Homo sapiens: one gene and its partners. The protein of the gene in region 1 interacts with the protein of each later gene in a pairwise test. Each region holds a gene or a part of one and is shown in the gene's direction. Other genes may lie near its edges.

The links. Proteins that work in one complex are often made in the same cells at the same time.
Region 2: the proteins of ADRA2C (region 1) and MEIS2 interact in binary tests that used the Homo sapiens proteins (3 or more experiments, as listed by UniProt).
Region 3: the proteins of ADRA2C (region 1) and CNPY2 interact in binary tests that used the Homo sapiens proteins (3 or more experiments, as listed by UniProt).

Annotation. Positions count from the first base shown.
Region 1 is NC_000004.12:3,761,640-3,769,062, forward strand, and holds ADRA2C (alpha-2C adrenergic receptor), read left to right. Parts: upstream 1-4,745; 5' UTR 4,746-4,967; coding exon 4,968-6,356; 3' UTR 6,357-6,887; downstream 6,888-7,423.
Region 2 is NC_000015.10:37,090,532-37,097,571, reverse strand, and holds part of MEIS2 (homeobox protein Meis2), read left to right. Parts: intron 1-1,141; coding exon 1,142-1,283; intron 1,284-1,957; coding exon 1,958-2,008; intron 2,009-2,994; coding exon 2,995-3,045; intron 3,046-3,841; coding exon 3,842-3,991; intron 3,992-7,040. UniProt on the Homo sapiens protein: Involved in transcriptional regulation. Binds to HOX or PBX proteins to form dimers, or to a DNA-bound dimer of PBX and HOX proteins and thought to have a role in stabilization of the homeoprotein-DNA complex.
Region 3 is NC_000012.12:56,312,971-56,320,103, reverse strand, and holds the start of CNPY2 (protein canopy homolog 2 isoform 1 precursor), read left to right. Parts: upstream 1-4,115; 5' UTR 4,116-4,283; intron 4,284-4,861; 5' UTR 4,862-4,886; coding exon 4,887-4,974; intron 4,975-5,137; coding exon 5,138-5,253; coding exon of another isoform or gene 5,254-5,304; exon of another isoform or gene 5,305-5,609; intron 5,610-7,133. Other genes in the region: PAN2-PAN3 deadenylation complex catalytic subunit PAN2, read left to right, coding at 83-240, 340-483, 617-796, 923-1,016, 1,670-1,867, 2,461-2,495. UniProt on the Homo sapiens protein: Positive regulator of neurite outgrowth by stabilizing myosin regulatory light chain (MRLC). It prevents MIR-mediated MRLC ubiquitination and its subsequent proteasomal degradation.

The DNA of each region.
Region 1 (7,423 bases):
GCAAGCATCAGTGCGGCTAAGGAGGCTAGAGCCAGGCCCACAAGCCCATCTGCCCTTCACGGCACCCATCCTGCCACCAGGCCTTCATTCAGCTCTTTCTGTGAGCTGAGAGCCCAGCCCTGGACCAGGCAGTGGGGATGGGACACAGCTGAGATGTATGGTTACTGATGATGGCCATGCCCCATGGGGCATGCAGGAGGCCGGCAAAAGTGGCCCAGATCCAGCCCGGGAGGTCACGGGAGGCTTCCTGAAGGAGGAACATCATGGGACAAGTCTTGAAGGAAGCGAGCCCCAGGAAAGATGAGGCAGAGGGCATCCAGGCCTGCGGACAGCACATGGTCAGGCCCAGGGTCCACAAGAGTTAATGAGAAATGTCCTCACAGCTCACAGCGTGGAGAGGAGGGCTGACCGCAGGAGCCAGGTGGAGCTGTGCAGACCAGGCAGGCGAGGCAGAACCCAGCCGCAGCCCCGGAAGAGCTGGCTGCAGCAGCAACCCAGAAATACATCTTCTCCTCAGCCTAGGAGGGTGGGCAAGGCCACAGGTGCCGCATATGTGTGTACACATCCATATATGCGAAGCCATGTGTGCACATGCATGACTGGTGTCATGCATAGGGACAGATGTGTGCAGCACAGGCATACACACGTGTGTGCAATGTGCATGGATTCGTGTTATCTGCACAGGGAAGGCTGTGCGTGCCCGCAGTATGCACAGGTGTGTGCACAGCATGGGTGCATCATTTCTACATATGCCAGTGTGATACATATGCATGTGTAGACATACGTGTGCAAAAAGCACGTGTGTATGATAGTGCATATGTATATATGCACCTGCATGTGAAGAGTACACGGGCATGTGTATGCACACGCAGGCATGTGTGCATGTGTGGGAACATGTATGTGTGCATACATGTGTGTATATTCTGTAGGCATGGATGCACTGTAAATCCACATGGTATATGTAGACAGTGTGTGTGTGGATGTGTGCATGCATGTGTGTGTGAAGGCATGCAAGTGTGCATGAATAGGTTGCATGCTTGCATGCATGTGTGGATATGTGTATGTATGGGTGTTCATGCTTGCATGAACACACGTGTATTCATGATATGTATATTCATGTGTGTGCATGGATCTATGTGTGCACAAGGATGTGTGTGGATACATATATGTGTGTGGACACTGTACATCTGCGTATGTGCATGCATGCCTGCATGTGCAGGGAGGGGGCTCAAGGAGCCAAACTCCCCTCCACCCGAGCTGAGGCTGCTCACGAAGCCTAGAGCGCGGCATCCCAGGCAGGCACCCAGCTCTCTCCGGCACAGCAGCCAGGGCCCAATGTCCCATGGCTGTATGGCCCTGCTGGACCAACCCTGTCCTCCTAGGCCCCACGCATCATGGGTGAGATACAGGCAGGTTCGCCTCTGCAGCTCCAGGACGTGCCACTTCTAGGTTCTCAGTTCTAGGAAACACCTGTAGGTTTCCCCTCTGAAATATGCCCACTTCTGCCATGTACTCCCCTGCACACGTACACACAGACAGCCCCCACAACCCCCGCCAGTGCAGCCTGACTCCCCCAGCACCCTCCTTCCTCGCCCCTCCTGGTCGTGCCAGCTCGCGTCGTGCCTCGTCAGGACAGGAAGTCTTGCTGGGTACGTGCTGTTCTGCTTGTTACGGACAATCCGGAGCAGTTCCTCAAGCCTAATTTCAAGGTCTGGGGGAAGAGTCCTCTCCAGCTTCCTTGCAAACAGCTGCGGTCCCGGGCCCTCCCACCACAGGCAGGCCTGCGTGCAATGCAACCCCTATGCATGGCCCAGGGCTTCGCTCCTCCTAATGACTCCAGGCCCCAGCTTTTTGCCCTTGGCTCCATCCAGGCCCTGGAGTGGACCCTTCTGACCCCTCCCTGGTCATGCCAGGAGGTGTTGCCAGCAGCATGTCAGCCTGTTGGCTGCCATCCCCAAGGGCCTGGGCCGCTCACTGGCCAGGCACTCCAGATGCCCTCAGCCTGGCCTGTGAGTGGCCCCTGCCTTCAGCCCTCCTGGGCAGTGGGAGGCTCATCTGGCTCAGGGCCCCAGGTGCTCCGTGTCCTTTTCCCTCCAAATTCCCGTGCCTGGGCTGCCATCTCTTGGGAACATAGGAGCCAGGATCCTAGATAGATCCCCATGCCCCTGCGCATCCCCCAAAGCACTTCTCAAAAAGAGAGCCCTTCAGGATGGGGGTGGGAGGCACGCTGATGCCGAGGGAGAGAGACCTTCTCCAAAGCCTGCATCTGGCCCCTGCCACTGCTCTTTCCTAGTCCTCCTGTCTCCCCACGCCCCCAGTACAAAGCCCACTCCCACTGGAAGAAGGACAGCCTACAGAGGCCTCCCCCTTCCTCATAACACCTCCTCACTCTCTAAGCACAGTTTGGTCACCTCCTCCAGGAAGGCTTCCTTGACAACCCCGCTCCCAGGCTGGGGGAGGAGCCCCAGGGCACTGATGGTTGTCAGCGCATTCACCTCAGTGGGTGGCCCCATCCACCCACAGATGGTGAGCACCTCAACTGAGGCCAGGCCCCCCTCACTCTCTGCCATCGCAGAGGGCTCAATAGAGACAAGGGCTCCAGCGGGCCGACCATGAAGGAAGCAGGTGTGTGTGGGCTTCCCTGAAAAATGCACCTCCAGGTGCCCTGGACAGGTGGCACCTTTTAGGCAACCAGAACCAGGAGGGCCTTTAGTAAGGATGGTGACCCTCCACCATCCCCAGGTCACACACCTCCCACAGGACAGCCATGGCCTGTTGCCTCCCCGAAGGGCATATGTGCCCTAGACTAGCACAGGACTGGCACAGAAGGCTTTGGCTCCAACGTGCGCCCCTGCTTGGCAGGCCCATCATCTGAAATATTTGCTTTCTGCCGGGCCCTGGCTCGGCCTCCACACCCCCAATGCAGGCCCTGCTGGTGACAAACATGGTGAAGAACGAAGCCGTAGCTCCTGGCAGTGTCTCTGCGGAGACAGACATGCTCCCCAGTAGGGCTGAGCAGCAGAGAACACGACAGGCTCTGAGGCTAAAGCTGGCGCCCTTCAGGAGCTCAGAGAGAAGCTGCCCCAGGCCACGGGCATGGATAGGCATCCCGGGGGTAGGGCAGTCACTCCAGCCGCTCTTCATGATGACCTCCCGGGCACTCAGAAGCGCCCCTTCCCCGCCGGTTCTAGCCACAGGATGGACAGACCTTCCCTCCCTCTCTCCTGCGGGCCCATGCAGGGAGAGGCCAGCCAGCTGGGGTTCGTTTCTGGACGTTTGGGAGAAGGGTCGTCCCTTCGGTCCTAGCAGAGAAACGTCAGGCCTGAGAACTCCAGCTCTCCTCCTGGATCACCTCGTCCCTGGAAGTCCCTCTCCCACAGACCCCAGGCTGCCTGGAGGCAGAAGCCAGCACCCAACATGGGCCACAGAGTGGCAGTGCACGTGGCAGTGCACATCTGCAGAATGGAGGTGCGCGGACGGGGGCGAGGGTGCACGGGGGCTACCTCAACGGCCGCTCTCCCCTGAGCCCACCCTTGCAAAAAGCTCCATCATCCAGGCAGCTCCGTTCTGGGTGTTTGTCAGAGGTGGTGACTTTGAACACCTCTCCATCCTTTAAAAGCAGGGCCTGAGAGCCTAAGGATTAAACTTCAATCACTGCTAACATGGGTGCAGAGCTTGGGAGCTTGCCCAGGGCTTCCACAGACACCGCCGTTAGTTATGATTCATGCTCCAGCAGCGCTGGGAAGTGGGCCGAGGGAACTGAGGCCGGGGTGGGTGCGGAGGTGGCTCTGACGGGGAGCGCCGATCCAGGATCTGGTCCGGACCCTGAGCTCGGCAGGACCTGTGCGCACGCAGGTAGCGTCGCGTCCTCCCCCAGGCTGCGAGAGGTTGCTCTGCCATCAGGCCATGGACCCCGAGCCGCCCGTGCTGCGCGCGCGCGTGTGCGCGCCCCCGCCTGCGCCCATGCCTGCGCCGGGGGAGGCGAAGGAGGCTCCAGTCTTAGAAAGAGCAGCTTCTGGAACTCACCACCCAGGCCGGCCGCCGCTCGGCCCCGTCCCGCAGGCTGCAGGCGGCCCTGGAGGGGGCGCCCTCGCCGAGCGCGCGCCCCGCGCCGCCGCCCCGGACTCCTCCCCGGCGCCGCGCGGGCAGGTTCGACCAGGCGGCCGCGGGCTCCGGTTCCCGGCCAGCTCCCCAGGGCCCGCGGCCCGCCCCGCCCCGCGCGCCCGCCCCGCTGCGCAACTCGACCCAAGTTGGAAGCCGATCGCAGGCGGCCGCACTCGCGCCCAGCGCAGGGCGGCGGCGGCGGCGGCGGCGCAGCTCCGGCGAGCGAGGCGGCGGCCGCACGGCCAAGCGTGGACCGCGGGGGGCGCCCGCGCCCGGGAGCAGCCGGAGGACTCGCGGCGGCGCCGGCGCCCCGCCCGGGAAAGTAAAGTTGGAGACGGAGGGAGCGCGCGGGCGCGGGGGCCCGGAGGAGCGGCGGCCGGCGCCCCGGCGCGCCGAGCCCTAGCCGGCCGGATGGGAGGCGGAGCGCCCGGGCCGCCGCCGCCTGTCGCCTGCGCCCCGGCTGGGCTCCGGGACCGCGGGGCCGCTCAGGCACGCCCGCTCGGGCGCCGCGTCGCCGTGGGCTCGACGCCGGGGCGCTCCCCGTGAGCCGGGCCGAGGGCGGGGCCGCGCGAGGACCCCGGGACCTGCCCCCCTCCCCCCGCAGCCGCGTCGCCGCTCGCTCCGGGCGCCTCCTGCTCTGCACTTACACGCTCGGCAGCTGCGGGGAGCCCGGCAGCCACGCTCTCCGGCGCGCCGCCCGCGGAGCCACCACGGCCGAGGGCCGGCTGCTGGGCGCCGCGGTCCCCGGCGGGCGCGCCCGAGCAGCAGGCGGCGATGCGGGCGCCGACCCCGGCTGGGGGGCGCCCGAGCTGCCGCGGCTGCGCCCCGGCTCCAGGAGGGACGGCGTAGCTCGCGGGAGGACCATGGCGTCCCCGGCGCTGGCGGCGGCGCTGGCGGTGGCGGCAGCGGCGGGCCCCAATGCGAGCGGCGCGGGCGAGAGGGGCAGCGGCGGGGTTGCCAATGCCTCGGGGGCTTCCTGGGGGCCGCCGCGCGGCCAGTACTCGGCGGGCGCGGTGGCAGGGCTGGCTGCCGTGGTGGGCTTCCTCATCGTCTTCACCGTGGTGGGCAACGTGCTGGTGGTGATCGCCGTGCTGACCAGCCGGGCGCTGCGCGCGCCACAGAACCTCTTCCTGGTGTCGCTGGCCTCGGCCGACATCCTGGTGGCCACGCTGGTCATGCCCTTCTCGTTGGCCAACGAGCTCATGGCCTACTGGTACTTCGGGCAGGTGTGGTGCGGCGTGTACCTGGCGCTCGATGTGCTGTTTTGCACCTCGTCGATCGTGCATCTGTGTGCCATCAGCCTGGACCGCTACTGGTCGGTGACGCAGGCCGTCGAGTACAACCTGAAGCGCACACCACGCCGCGTCAAGGCCACCATCGTGGCCGTGTGGCTCATCTCGGCCGTCATCTCCTTCCCGCCGCTGGTCTCGCTCTACCGCCAGCCCGACGGCGCCGCCTACCCGCAGTGCGGCCTCAACGACGAGACCTGGTACATCCTGTCCTCCTGCATCGGCTCCTTCTTCGCGCCCTGCCTCATCATGGGCCTGGTCTACGCGCGCATCTACCGAGTGGCCAAGCTGCGCACGCGCACGCTCAGCGAGAAGCGCGCCCCCGTGGGCCCCGACGGTGCGTCCCCGACTACCGAAAACGGGCTGGGCGCGGCGGCAGGCGCAGGCGAGAACGGGCACTGCGCGCCCCCGCCCGCCGACGTGGAGCCGGACGAGAGCAGCGCAGCGGCCGAGAGGCGGCGGCGCCGGGGCGCGTTGCGGCGGGGCGGGCGGCGGCGAGCGGGCGCGGAGGGGGGCGCGGGCGGTGCGGACGGGCAGGGGGCGGGGCCGGGGGCGGCTGAGTCGGGGGCGCTGACCGCCTCCAGGTCCCCGGGGCCCGGTGGCCGCCTGTCGCGCGCCAGCTCGCGCTCCGTCGAGTTCTTCCTGTCGCGCCGGCGCCGGGCGCGCAGCAGCGTGTGCCGCCGCAAGGTGGCCCAGGCGCGCGAGAAGCGCTTCACCTTTGTGCTGGCTGTGGTCATGGGCGTGTTCGTGCTCTGCTGGTTCCCCTTCTTCTTCAGCTACAGCCTGTACGGCATCTGCCGCGAGGCCTGCCAGGTGCCCGGCCCGCTCTTCAAGTTCTTCTTCTGGATCGGCTACTGCAACAGCTCGCTCAACCCGGTCATCTACACGGTCTTCAACCAGGATTTCCGGCGATCCTTTAAGCACATCCTCTTCCGACGGAGGAGAAGGGGCTTCAGGCAGTGACTCGCACCCGTCTGGGAATCCTGGACAGCTCCGCGCTCGGGGCTGGGCAGAAGGGGCGGCCCGGACGGGGGAGCTTTCCCAGAGACCCGGGGATGGATTGGCCTCCAGGGCGCAGGGGAGGGTGCGGCAGGGCAGGAGCTTGGCAGAGAGATAGCCGGGCTCCAGGGAGTGGGGAGGAGAGAGGGGGAGACCCCTTTGCCTTCCCCCCTCAGCAAGGGGCTGCTTCTGGGGCTCCCTGCCTGGATCCAGCTCTGGGAGCCCTGCCGAGGTGTGGCTGTGAGGTCAGGGTTTTAGAGAGCAGTGGCAGAGGTAGCCCCCTAAATGGGCAAGCAAGGAGCCCCCCAAAGACACTACCACTCCCCATCCCCGTCTGACCAAGGGCTGACTTCTCCAGGACCTAGTCGGGGGGTGGCTGCCAGGGGGCAAGGAGAAAGCACCGACAATCTTTGATTACTGAAAGTATTTAAATGTTTGCCAAAAACAACAGCCAAAACAACCAAACTATTTTCTAAATAAACCTTTGTAATCTAATGTTGGGTGCCGCAGTCAGTCCTTGAGCTTGGGGGCTGGGGGTATCTTCCAGACCCTCACCCTGCCTGACACCCTCCCCCATCTCCCCCACCCCACAATGCTGGACGGAGGGCACCCTGGGCCTCCGGGTTACAACTTCCTTCTTGCATGAGAAGGAGGGGTCTTGCTTTTTCTCAAGCTAACCCTTTATGTACATGGAAAATATGTACTCAAAATTCCTGTGCTGAGAGTAGCGAAGAGGTGAAAGGAGCCTAGAACCCCCAAGTTGACCCCAAGTTTAGATTCTGGGGGACTGTCTTCCCTGCATTCCCATCCCTGCCCCCTGCCCTTCCCCACTCTGATATTCAGGGCCTCCGGTGGAAAGAGGTGGGGCTCTTCCAGTCCAAGACTGAGAGTAGCTTTGAGCTAGTCCTCCTGGCTCTGAACATTTTGTGGGCGTGGCTCTTGGGTGGAGAGAGGGTGGGCGTGAGGCCGGCAAGCCCCCACACCATCACTCTTAGGCCAGAGGCCTGGCCAGAGCCAGGTTGAACAACAGG
Region 2 (7,040 bases), on another chromosome or scaffold:
TTTTTTACTTTTTTTTCTTCTGTTTCCTACTGAGGGTCTGGGAGTCACTAACAGCAGCTTGAGCTGGGATCAGGGCTGCTTCTGTCGGCCAGGAAGTCCTAATCACCCACTTCTTAATTCTCTGTAAATAAAGGGGGCAGACCTCGAAGTGCAGCGAGGTGGAAGGGACTCTTGCTTGCTTGGAGCCGCTCTTAGGGGGAGTAAGGAAGATGGCTGGAAATTATTTTATATTCTGAGAGCACTTGGCGAGGGGTGAGATGCACGATCCTAACGTGTACCACACGAGCTCTTCCGGCTGAGGGTAGGTGGGCAAAGCGACGGGATGCCGAGGGGAGGGGACAGTGGGTAAACAGCAACTGAGCCCCAAGCCAGAGGCCGCAAGCATCCCGAAGTGTGGCTAAGCCGCCCGGAGGAACACAAAGGGCATACGCGCACGCACACTTAAAGTTTTAAAACACGATTTATTTATTTTTGTCTGCTGCAACGCTGGGAGAAATGTGGTCTTTGGAAGGAAGCTCTCCAGTGTGTAACCTTCCTATTATTTTGGCCCCCACACTGTGGCTTTAGTAGAACAGGAGCAAACAAGTTTATAAGGCAAGGAGGTGGAGAGATTAAAAGAGCATTCTCTTGCATTTATGAAGTGTCACTCCGGTGTGTATGTAGGTGAAGCCTTTGGCCTCGTCTGAAATGCCCATTAAAATGCAGAGTTAAAACTATTTTTTTTTCAATTTCACACAGTGTTCCCTTCTTGGGAGGTCAGGGCTGGGTCTCAGGGGTTGGTTCCGCGGCCTCCGTAGTGTGGGGAGTGGATCAGAATCGACTCGGGCTCCAGACTGCCTGAGCGTCTCGGATGTTTCATTACGTTCCAACTGAGGCTGTTTTTATTTGTCGGGCTGCAGTGGCCGGGGTCTTCTCTGGCCAGATCTGAGGGACCTCTGAGCTGCGGGAGAGGGCCAGGCCCTTTTCCCTTTCTGTTTCTGGCTTAGGCTCGCCTGATGGAGGAAGGGTTGTAAAGTGTGGTGCGTGCCTGTTGTATTAAAGAAGGACTCCACACCCTCCAAACTTGTTGATTACAGTTCTTGCTCCTTCCCCTCTGCACCCCGTCTCTGTGTGTGTGTCTCTGCGTGGCGCTGCCCGTTAGGCACCCGTTGTTTCCTCTGTTAGCTCTGGTCTTTGAGAAGTGCGAGCTGGCGACCTGCACTCCCCGGGAACCTGGAGTGGCTGGCGGAGACGTCTGCTCCTCCGACTCCTTCAACGAGGACATCGCGGTCTTCGCCAAGCAGGTCCAGCCTTCTTGATCCACTCAACTTCGGGCAGTCCCTCACTACCCCTCCCCTTTCCTCGGAGCTTTACTTGAAAGGAGGAAAGGCCAGGGACACCCTATCTGTTCCTCTGGCCCAGTCCGCTCTCTACGCCTCCTCCCCATCCCTGAGCCTGGGGGCGAATTGGAAGTGGAGATAAATATGGGTGTTTGTTTTCCCCCCCAGCAGGAATACAGGGGTCGACCCTCGAATTAAAGTTGACCTGCTCCTAATCTGGGGCTTGGCCTTTTTCCCCCGCCTCCAGCTACTTGAACAAGAATTGGGGAGAGGGGCTGTGAGGGACCCGGGAGTGCCCGGGAGGCAAGGAAGCTGGGCGCCTCTCCGAGCGGTCCCAGGCAGCAGTGGAGAGCCACAGCCTCTTGGACTGCTGGATATGGAACTCGAGGCCCTGAGAACGACCCTGAGTTCCTGGCTACAGCTTAGTCGTACCAGGTCCCCCTTAATGGGGCCAGGACCAGAATGCCCTGATTCTTCTTCAGGGACTCCACTAATTTAAGGCACCAGTTTCTTTCTTGTATTTTGCCAAAGCCCCTTTCCTCTTCTCCGCCATTGCCCTCCACCGTACCCATTCTCACATTTCAGCTTTCTTATTTTAAATGGGGTGATCGTTCAAGTTGACTCTCTGTTTCTTACAGGTTCGCGCCGAAAAGCCACTTTTTTCCTCAAATCCAGAGCTGGACAATTTGGTAAGGCTCTCTGTTCCTTGTTTTTCCCCAGCCTTTGCCCTCTCCCATGCCCAGAAGCACCCACTTTCTGCTGGAGCTCTGGGGAGTTAGAACAGAACCCTCTTTTGGAGCTCTAGGGAGAGAGGGAGGAAGGGAGCAGCTTAGAGCCCCCGCACGGGAGCTGGCGAGCGAGGAGCAGGATGAACGCGGTGGGGAGCGAAGCCCAGGGAGGCCGAAACGGGAGACCGAGCGCCGAGAGCGCGAGCAGGGGATGTTTCCCAGGTCTCGGCCCCAGGAGTAAACTGCGAGAAGTGAGTTATTTCCTCTGTTTGCCGGGGCAGGCGGCCGAGCCCCGGGCGGCTAACCCGAAGGATGTAACCACTGGCACGGCTGAGGGCGGGCTGGGGGTGGGGGCTGGGGGGCGGTGAGGGGCAGGCCAGCGCAGGCCACTTTTAGGTGCGATTCTTTTGCTAATTTGCACGATTTCAATATTAAAAGTACTTAAATCCGCTTTCAAAGGCCCTGCCTCAGCATTCATCTTGAGTATTTCCTTCTTTAGTGAGGAAGGATTTCGCTGGGTATGCTGTTCTAAAAAGCTTTTTCTATCCTGAGAAGGGACCTTTTTTTTTTTTTTTTTTTTTTAAGGAAAAAAAAAAAAGTTGTCCTGAGGTCGAGGGAGGGGATGTTTAAAGAGGACTAAGAGGAGAAAAAAGGCCTGGCCCGAGGAAAGCAGTCTTACAAATAGCACAGTGAACATCAGGGGGAAAGATATTAATGCTTATGCTCAGGTTGAGTCAGATTCCTACCCCGTGGCCAATGAGGCAGAGATGATCAGTAATCACTTGATTTTTCTGACTATTTCTTGATGTTTAAGTTTTTCCTGGCCACCTGCCCGTTTCTTCTCCCCAGCCCAACTTTCTCACCACCATCCTCACCCCACTCCCAACCCCAAGACAGGACCTCAGAGTCACAGAGCTCTAACTCCATTCCCTGAACTTTTCTTTCAGATGATACAAGCAATACAAGTACTAAGGTTTCATCTTTTGGAGTTAGAAAAGGTAAGCAGGAAATAACGCTCCCCGTGTTGATTAAACCATTTCCCTCTCCTAGTTGAGTTGGGATGTTTTTAACAAACCTCTAGTGTGAGGGATTGAGCACCTGGAGATTTTGAGCATGTAACCATGTCCATCCTTCAACTCGCTTCTCAACACAGGGGCTCAGAGGGTGGGTGAATCAGGACAGCCTTGCCTTTAAAGTAGCCTCCTCCTCCCCAATATTCCCCTCAGGCATTCAGGATTATTTTGAAATGCAGCAAACCATTTATGTTACTGGACACTCAGCCTGCTTGCATCTTTATTAGCTCAGCTCACCCTCGGCCCTGGGTTTGCATTAGGTGCAGGCAGAGTGAATCATCCTTGCTGGGTGTCTTTACATTGCTCTGCAGCTCAATTACTTTCCCCTGGAAACATACGAAACCCCTAGCTTATAAAATCACAAACGTTAATGCTCTCCCCAGCTCCAATGTTGTAATGTTTTGATGTTATTATCAAATCAGATTTAATTCCCTGGACTCCCACTCTGAACCCAGTTATTTCCAGTCCTGTTTCTTTCTCTCTCTATTGTAACTTGTTGCTCAGAGAAGTCTCTGGAGAATAATATCTGCTGCAACAATTACTCTATTGTTTCCTTGCCTTCAACTATTACACCCTTTAATTAGAGTTAGTTTGGAAGACATCACACTGTTGCTCTTTGCAAATGTAACCTTGCAACCTGGTATTTTTCCTTTCTAAAAATGAAACAAAACAACAACAACAACAACATGAGCTAAACCCTCCACCATGACCTTCGTTCTAGGTCCACGAACTGTGCGATAACTTCTGCCACCGATACATTAGCTGTTTGAAGGGGAAAATGCCCATCGACCTCGTCATTGATGAAAGAGACGGCAGCTCCAAGTCAGATCATGAAGAACTTTCAGGCTCCTCCACAAATCTCGCTGACCATGTAAGTCTGCTAGCCTTTAGCAATCTTTTAAGGCCACTGGGCAAAGCATTATTTTAACCTTGTTTTAACATCTAGCTCCACTGATTTAGTTTTCTTTTTAAATGACTCCGTCTCTTTTGGGGTCTTTTCTTCTCTTTCTTGCTTTCTCTGCCATACCCTTCATTTTCATTTCTCCTTTCTTGGACCCCCTCCTATTTATGTTGAGAGCCAAAAAACCAGAGTTGATAGAGTGATTTGTGCTCTTAATGTGTAAAGTTTTCTGGATTTGGTGACTTGGGTGTTCGCAAATTCTGTTTGATATAGTCACCACTGTGTTTTCTGCTTTCTTAATTTTGTGTAATCAGTGCAGCAGGGATAGAAAGAAGCAAGACAGTTAGCTGGACTGGTCTGGAGAGAGAGGACTGAATGAAAGAGAATTGAGTGAGTGCTGATTTCCTAGTATGTCACAGAGATGACAATTCTGAGAATTATTGGCAATCTTGCACTGCATTCGAAATAAAAGGGGTGAACAAACACATTACAATTCTCAGGGCTTTTGCTATAGAAACTTATTGTCAGAATAGGGACTTATTGCCAAATGCCTGAAGCATCTTCATAATAAAAGACAGTAACCTTGATGAACCAATTATTAACAATGTATTACAGAAAGCTGAAGGGAATTATGATTGAGTAACCATAGGTTAGTGGTTGAATTTTAACACTTTAACAGTTGGTGAATGAGGATGGAGAGTATAGTAAGAAATGACTGTGTATGTCAGGCCAGGAAAGGAGATTTCTTTCTATTCTCTCTGTTTCTAATCCTATTTTGGAACCAATCTAGTGAGTCTGATGCTAAAAAAAAAAAAAAAAAAAAAAAAAAAAAAAAAAAAAAAAAAAAAAAAAAAGCATATGTAGTGAGACTGAAAATTTGAAAAAGAAGCAAAGAGAAGAAAGATTGCAGCTGGTAGGAAAGGCAAGAGTGGCGAGGTTAAAGAGTGGGTGTGAACAGCAGTTTTATTTATAGGAACTCAAGCCTGGAAATGGGGGACAGGGTGTCTATAGATTACATTCAGTTGAACTCACAGCCTAAATAATATAAGCTGTAGTTTAATAACTTTGTGGCCGAAATATTAATTTGACACTCCGTGTGAGTTAAACAGGCATTAAGGCTTGAAGGCAGTTTGTCCCTACCTCCCATCCCAATTCCTGACTGGTATGAGAAATGAATTGGGATGCCTTAGTATAAACCTTCTATGAGGTTCTTCTCTCCCCTGCTCCAGACAAAAGTTTTGAAAATATGCAGTCATAGATTTTCATAATTAACCTTTGCACTTGTATGGGAAGCCAGCCTAAGAACAAAAGTTAGAAAAAGTCTAGAAAAGAAAACCGCAGTCTGGGATATCCAGTTCTGTGACAGAATAAATACTGCGGTGTTGAAGGCTCCTATTCTTATCTCTTTACCCTTACCTTTTTCCATCATGGTGAGGGAATCTTTGGTGATCTCCTTTGTATATTGAGTGAATGTAATGAAATCAAAAGGATGCAGCAGTGGTTATGGAAAGTTTATTTGCTGATCTGTGGCTCCACAGTGTGTTGTGGTCCATGAGGCATGACACTACCTAAGAAATATTTACATTTGTTGTTTTTTGTGTGTTTATTTTCATTGTTTTCTGTTTCTATATTTATATTTATTCACATTATTGGGAGACTGGGGAGGGATCTATTTACATGGTTTGTAAAATGAGAGGTTCACAGTTCTCGGAGCCAAAAGCTTTTCTCATGATATTTCTAGGAGTACCTACTACTTAGTTTTCTAAAACAGTTTCTTGGCAACTCTTTTTCCAGTGGATGTATACAGCTAGACCATGTTGATGTTTACATAGAAAAGATAAGATAAAATAGGCTGTTTAAAGTATTGGCTGATAGACAATATCAATTTATGAGACTATTGTAATATTTAAATATCCACTCAAGAAGGAAGTTGTACCTAAGAGGATAGTGCTTTAATAATTTATCAATCATCATCTTTGGATAAAAGAGTCAACTGTAACATTTGTTGCTCTCCTTTCAGGCCCCCAGTCAAGTAAATATGACAACTGATTTATTTTGAACCCATGAGGGCTTGCCACTTCATTGGGTGTCATAATTTAAAGCCTTTTATTTCCTAGAGATCTGAACTATAACATTTTTACTTTAGCCCCCTGCTATTTGTTTTGAAAGGAAGCAATAATTTGTTCCACCAGCACACCAAGTAGAAAACGGAGAGATTTGCCACAGACTTGTATTTTATGCAGGGACATGAGAGAAAACCTTGGAGAGTTTTCACCATTTTTGAGACTTTTGTACCATAGGTGTATTGATTGTATTCATGTCCAGGCTTCCCCCTTCAAAGCAAATCCTCTTATGCTTTTCAGCCTCTTCTACAAAGTTGCCTTCCTTCAACCCCCTAGCCAAACACAAAGTAAAAATAACAAAGAACCACTACCTGAAAAGTGGTGTGAGTGGGACATTTTCAGCATGTAAATGTGCCCAATTTGAATCTTCAGGTTTATTTTTCATTTGCTTTGATATGCATATTTAATACATTGCCCCAGGCTGGATCTCATTTGGTGAACACTGGTGCAGGGGTGATGATGAGCCACTTCAGAAAGGCCCAGACAGCGCGTTGTTTTCTTGTTTTATCTGTTGGCCCACTATTCTGATCTGAGCTTCCTCTTGGTTTTATTTGCACATGAAATGCTGAGAGCATTTCAACTTATTGGCTATGAATAATGACAGCTAAAAAAGAAGTGTAGTTTAATTTGTTGTATGCCAAGGTTTCTCTTGTGGAGGTGACAGTTTGTGACAGCTGTTTGACACCCCCAAAACACATACACCTCTACTCTTATTAAGTGGTATCCAGCTTCATTGTGTGTGTGTGTGCATACTCGTGTGTGTGCATGTTTAAGGAAGGAACATGCAAGGAGAGAGAGAAAAGCAGAGAGAAATGCATCAGAAGCAAAATATTAGGTACCAATATAGTTTCAGTATTCTTTAAAAGAATTTGAAAATGTAAATAAATAAAAGTAAT
Region 3 (7,133 bases), on another chromosome or scaffold:
GTCGATGATCAGCCACACTGGGCTTCTCTCCCCTAGTCACTTCCCTATCCAAGCCCTGTGTCCTCTGCATTCTCCCTTCTAGTCAAGAACCCTATTGAGGCAAGTGTCTTGCTGGCTGAAGCCTCGCTGGCACGGAAGCAGCGGAAAACACATACTACCTTTATTCCACTGATGCTGAATGAGATGCCACAGATTGGGGACCTGGTGGGTCTGGATGCTGAGTTTGTCACCCTTAATGAGGTAACCAAGACCAAAGGGATGGGGCATTGGAAGAGAACGCTGAGGATATTAGGAGTTGTAAGCATTTCTCTGATTTCCTTATTAACTCTTCTCATGTAGGAGGAAGCAGAGTTACGCAGTGATGGTACCAAGTCTACCATTAAACCAAGCCAGATGTCAGTAGCCAGGATTACCTGTGTTCGGGGCCAGGGACCCAATGAGGGTATCCCCTTCATTGATGACTACATCTCTACCCAGGAGCAGGTATTAGGATATGGAGATGCAAGTGAGGCACACCCTGGTGCTTACTTACAGTGCTCAAGAACCCAGGGAAGAGTGATAGGGGAAGACTCCATCTCACTTCCTGAAAAAGGCTTGTCCTTTTCTCTATTCCTAGGTGGTGGATTACTTGACTCAATACTCGGGTATAAAGCCTGGTGACCTCGATGCCAAAATTTCCTCCAAGCACCTAACAACTCTCAAGTCTACCTACTTAAAGCTTCGTTTTCTCATTGACATTGGAGTCAAGTTTGTGGGTCATGGCCTGCAGAAGGACTTCCGGGTCATCAACCTGATGGTTTGGCAGGGCTCTTTTAAGAGTCTTCTTGTGAGAGTGGGCCCCTCAGGGTATACATTGTGCCTTTAGAGAATGGGGAATTATAGGTCCCCTACCTTAAGTCTCCCCCTCTTTTATCCTTGCCAGGTGCCCAAGGACCAAGTCCTTGACACTGTCTACCTGTTCCATATGCCCCGAAAACGAATGATTTCCCTGCGATTCCTTGCTTGGTACTTTCTGGGTGAGTTGCTCTGCCTTGTAGGCCCCTGCTACATTAATAGCAGAAGCAGCCATTTAAAAAAAAAGAAATCATGTTCTTTGCGGCAACATGGATGGAGCTGTGGGCCATCATACTAAGTGAACTAACTCAGAAACAGAAAATCAAATACCACATATTCTCACTTATAAGTTGGAACTAAACAATGAGTACATATGGACATAAGAATGACATTAGGGACTCTAAAAGTTGGGGTGGTGGGTGAGGGGTGAGGGTTGAAAATTACGTATTGGGTGCATAGTTCACTATTTGCATATTAGGGATACCAGAAGCCCAGTCCCCACCAGTACACGATACACCCATGTAACAAACATGCACATGTACCCCAAATCTAAAATAAAATTTAAATATAAAAAATAAAAGCATGGGGGGAAAAGAAAAAGTAGGAAAAGTGTTAGAGGACAAAATGGGAGTAGGGGAGACCCTCAGTTAGTGGTGACAGTTACTAATGGATTTAATTAACTTCAATATCCCTTCTGTGCACTGAGGAAGATGTCTGACAATTTTCCTTAAGGGCAGTCAGGCTTTTTAGTTTTCTGGAGTCAGGTAGGAGTGGGGAGACATGTTCCTACCTCCCTTTGCTGGGTCCCAAACTATTCCACCTTTACTTACCCCAGACCTGAAGATTCAAGGGGAAACCCATGACAGTATTGAGGATGCCCGCACAGCCCTTCAGCTGTACCGAAAGTATCTGGAGCTAAGCAAAAATGGCACTGAGCCTGAGTCTTTCCACAAGGTGCTCAAGGGTCTTTATGAGAAGGGCAGAAAGATGGACTGGAAGGTGCCTGAGCCTGAGGGCCAAACAAGTCCCAAGAGTAAGACCTGGGATGGGACAAGGGAAACTGGACTGGGTGGATTTTGTATTTTGTTTGTTTGTGACAGGGTCTCACTCTGTCACCCAGGCTGAAGTGCAGTAGCGTGATTACAGCTCACTGCAGCCTCGACTTCCTGGGCTCAAGTGATTCTCCCACCTCAGCCTCCCAAGTACCTGGGACAACAGGCACACACCACCACACCCAGCTAATTTTTGTACTTTTTGTAGAAACAGGATTTTGCCATGTTGCCCAGGCTGGTCTTAAACTCCTGGGCTCAAGCGATCCACCCACCTTGGGCTCACAAAGTGCTGGGATTACAGGCATGAGCCTGAGCGCCCCCAATTGGGTGGATTTTGATTGCACATATGGAGAATAGCACTTAACAGTTTACAAAGCACTTCATCCTCCTAACATTCAGTAAAATACATTTTATCGAAACTCTCCATTAACTATAACTTCCTCTTGCCCAAGTCTAAAATGTTCAGGGAAGGTCCATGCCCTTTTTTCTCTTGCATTTTTCCTTCATAGGAAGTATGAGAAGATGCTTTTTCTCCACTCAGCTTGAATCATGCTTTTGGTTTTGTCTCTGACAGATGCAGCTGTCTTCTCCTCAGTGCTGGCGCTCTGACTACCCTTCCCAAAGAACCACGGCCCTCTCCCTTTACTGTTCTATAGCCCCAGAACTGGGAGATGGCTTCCTAAGTTGGCTATACCTTGTCCACTTCCAGTACTGGACGTGCTCAGGGTCTAGGGTCACAGATGGTGCTATTAATTGAACTGGAACACAGCAGAATTGTTGCAAAGGTTCTAGGAGCCAGATTCATTCCTTCTTCATTCTTTGCAAAACAGTGGTACAGACATGGAGTCTAGAATTGACCCAGATGGAAAGTAATTGGTATTCTTAATATCCTGGGTGACTAATATCCAGGCAGAGAAGCTCCTGGAACCATAACTGTAAGTTCCTAGCTGGCTAGGGATTGAAGTCCTGGACAGTGACAGAGGATACCACAGTAGTTCAAGACTTAGCACAAGTCACCAACTGCTTCAGGGATACCTGGAGGGGCCAGCAAGTAGAGTGTTGGTGGCCCAAGCAAACCAGTGTTGCCAATACCATTGCCAAAAGGGCCTTTGGATCCTGGACAAAGCTTGGCTGCCGGCTTCATTTATTCCTGCTGATGGCTGAGAAGCATCTGTCTTCCATCCCACTTGCCTGTCCCAAGTTTTGTTCCATTTTTTAAAAATTTGTTGTAAACTGCATGTTTTATAAAATAAAAATAAAATATCGTTTGTTATTTATCTCATTAGAGAACTGCTAGTGTGGGTTCTCTGGCTTCAGTCTTCCTCTCCTTCCTTTGAAGGTAAAGGTCCGGAATCCAAAGTTATGGATATGAAAGGGTATAATTAGGCCGGGCGCGGTGGCTCACTTCTGTAATCCTAGCACTTTGGGAGGCAGAGGTGGGTGGAACACGAGGTCAGGAGTTAAAGACCAGCCTGACCAAGATGGTGAAACCCCGTCTCTACTAAAAATACAAAAATTAGCTGGGAGTGGTGGATGGCGACTGTAACCCTAGCTGAGGCAGAAAATTGCTTCAACCCGGGAGGCGGAGGTTGCAGTGAGCCGAGATCACGCCACTGTATGCCAGCCTGGGCGATAGGGCGAGACTCCGTCTCAAAAAAAGGGGAAAAAGGTATAATTTATGCCTTTTCTGGGCAATGCTGGGTCTTTGCTATAGCTGCCCAGTACCCTAAGTCAGACTGAAGATGTACAGTATGGTTTCCGTTAATTGTGTAAGCCGACAAACTACAGGTCCCAGGATAGCTTGAGACTTGTAGTTGCTCACAAAGATGGGTCCGGTGCTGCGGTGCTTCCTGGGAGATGTAGTTTCCTGTGTATTGAAACCTGGACTGCTCGCTGGCCGGCAGCGCACCGTTTTGAAGGTCCTAGCCCACCTGGGCTGGCTCACGCGCACGACTAGCCGCTCCCATACAGCACGCCCGGACTCTGTCGTCGCTTAAGGCCACTCCTATTCTACGGCTGACCCCTGGTGGTCACGTGGATCTGTTCGCCACGCAAGTCTGGGTCCTTCGGCGATTGACCGGGGTCCTTGCTGTTCGGGAGCCTCTCCTAAGCTGCCTGTTCGCGCGAGAGTTTGGAGGGGCGGGTTTGGGGTCGGTGTCTGATTGGGGCTCGCACCGCAGCACGCTGGAGTCCCGCTTAGGTACCAGTTAGCGTCAGGGGAGCTGGGTCAGGCGGTCGCCGGGACACCCCGTGTGTGGCAGGCGGCGAAGCGCTCTGGAGAATCCCGGACAGCCCTGCTCCCTGCAGCCAGGTGTAGTTTCGGGAGCCACTGGGGCCAAAGTGAGAGTCCAGCGGTCTTCCAGCGCTTGGGCCACGGCGGCGGCCCTGGGAGCAGAGGTGGGACGGATGCGGGCGGCGAGGCGCTGGGCGCTGAGGGTTGGGGATGGACTGAAGCGAAAGCAATGGCGGAGTCCTTAGAAAGGGGGCTGGTGTCCGTACGGGTAATCACTTACGGGCTGGAGGTGGGGACGCAGGAATCTTCGGTGCAGGATCCAAATGGGCCCTAGTTATTGCTCTCCTCGCTGGCCTCCTGGCCTGACTGAGGGCTCCCTGCCGGCAGTTCCCTAGTGCCTGTAGTCCTCACGTAATCGCCAACTTACCTCCTGTAGCTGCCACAAAGCCCCGTGAACCCTAGGCATGCAGTGCTAAAGTACCAACACTTAGGGCCTCACCTATCCACGTAGAGTCTGGGGCTGAGCCGCAAGTCCTGAGCTCGCGCTCCCACCCACCACCCTGGGGGAATCAGAGCCCTCAAGCGCTGGAACAGAGAAGCCCCTTTGTGTCCCGGCCATTTCCTGGAAAGTAGAGCCAGAGTCACAATGAGGCCTTTGAAAGCCTTGGGGTGAGGATTGGGGGGGTCAGGGAAAAATGGAGTCGGCTCCTCACACTTATGTTTTATTCCCACTCAAACCCAGGTGGAGCGACCCCATTACGCTAAAGATGAAAGGCTGGGGTTGGCTGGCCCTGCTTCTGGGGGCCCTGCTGGGAACCGCCTGGGCTCGGAGGAGCCAGGATCTCCACTGTGGAGGTAAAGGCACAACGGGAAAAAGAAGTGGAGGAAGCAGAGCCTTGGGAGGGCATGAGATCCAAGGCCTGGGAGAAGGATGAATGGAAATCCTGGGTTGATCCCATTCTCCTCACACCCTACCCCCTACCCTGTCCCCTGCTCTCATTCTCTCCTCTTCCACCAGCATGCAGGGCTCTGGTGGATGAACTAGAATGGGAAATTGCCCAGGTGGACCCCAAGAAGACCATTCAGATGGGATCTTTCCGGATCAATCCAGATGGCAGCCAGTCAGTGGTGGAGGTAACTGTTACTGTTCCCCCAAACAAAGTAGCTCACTCTGGCTTTGGATGAAATTCGACTGCTTAAAAAGGACCTTGGTTTAATAGAAATGAAGAAAACAGACTCAGAAAAAAGATTTGGCTCTGTCTCATTTGGAAGAAGCTGCAGGCTTATTCCCCATGCACTTGCTTCCTGGCTGCAAACCTTAATACTTTGTTTCTGCTGTAGAATTTGTTAGCAAACAGGGAGTCCTGATCAGCACCCTTCTCCACATCCACATGACTGGTTTTTAATGTAGCACTGTGGTATACATGCAAACATCCGTTCAAAATCTGAGTCGGAGCTAAAAATAAAAAATGAAAAAACAGAAATAAGAATAAAAGGTCTTATCCTCATAATTAGGAAATTTTAATCGAAAACAACACACATGTACACAAAGGTGTATCTAATAAGCAATATATAAGGCAGTGTTAAGATTACAGTGCTAGCCTGGGCATCATGGCAAAACACCAACTCTACAAAAAAATGCAAAAGTTAGCAGTGCATGGTGGCATGTGCCTGTAGTGACAGCTGCTTGGAAGGCTGAGGTGGGAGGATCACTTGAGCCCAGGAGGTCGAGGCTGCAGTAAGCCGTGATTGTGCCACTGCACTCCAGCCTGGGAAACACAGCAAGACCCTGTCTCAAAAAAAAACCAAAACCCAGCACTTTGGGAGGCCAAGGCAGGCGGATCACCTGAGGTTAGAAGTTCGAGACCAGCCTGGCCAACATGGTGAAACTCCGTCTCTACTAAAAATACAAAAAAGTAGCCAGGCGTGGTGGCTCATGCCTATAGTCCCAGCTACTCAGGAGGCTGAGGCAGGAGAATCACTTGAACCCAGGAGGCAGAGGTTGCAGTGAGCCAAGATCGCACCACTGCACTCCAGTCTGGTTGACAAGAACAAAACTCTGTCTTGAAAAAAAAAAAAGGCCGGGCGCGGTGGCTCACGCCCGTAATGCCAGCACTTTGGGAGGCTGAGGTGGGCAGATCACAAGGTCAGGAGATCGAAACCATCCTGGCTAACATGGTGAAACCCCGTCTCTACTAAAAATACAAAAAATTAGCCGGGCGTGGTGGTGGGTGCCTGTAGTCCCAGCTACTCAGGAGGCTGAGACGAAAAGAATGGCGTGAACTCGGGAGGCAGAGCTTGCAGTGAGCTGAGATGGTGCCACTGCACTCTAGCCTGGGCGACACAGCGAGACTCCTCTCAAAAAAAAAAAAAGAAAAGAAAAAAGATTATGGTACTTTAATAGCTGTTGTTCACAGAGCCTACACTACATCTTTAATACTGTGCTTACTGAGGATATTAGTCTCAATTTAAACAAAATTATTATTATTTTTTTGAGATGGAGTTTAGGGCTTGTTGCCCAGGCTGGAGTGCAATGACACGATCTCGGCTCACCGCAACCTCTGCCTCCCGGGTTCAAGCGATTCTCCTGCCTCAGCCTCCCGAGTAGCTGGGATTACAGGCATGCACCACCACACCTGGATAATTTTGTATTTTTAGTAGAGACAGGGTTTCTCCATGTTGGTCAGGATGGTCTCGAACTCCTGACCTCAAGTGAGCCACCCTCCTCGGCCTCTCAAAGTGCTGGGATTACAGGCGTGAGCCACCACGCCCGGCCAAAAATAAAATATTAATGAACACATGGACACAGGGAGGGGAACGTCACACATCAGGTCCTGTTGGGGTGTTGGGGGCTAGGGGAGGGATAGCATTAGGAGAAATACCTAATGTAGATGACAGGTTGATGGGTGTAGCAAACCACCATGGCACATGTATACCTATGCAACAAACCTGCACGTTCTGCACATGTATCTCAGAACTTAAACTATAATTTAAAAAAAAATTATCTTCATCTA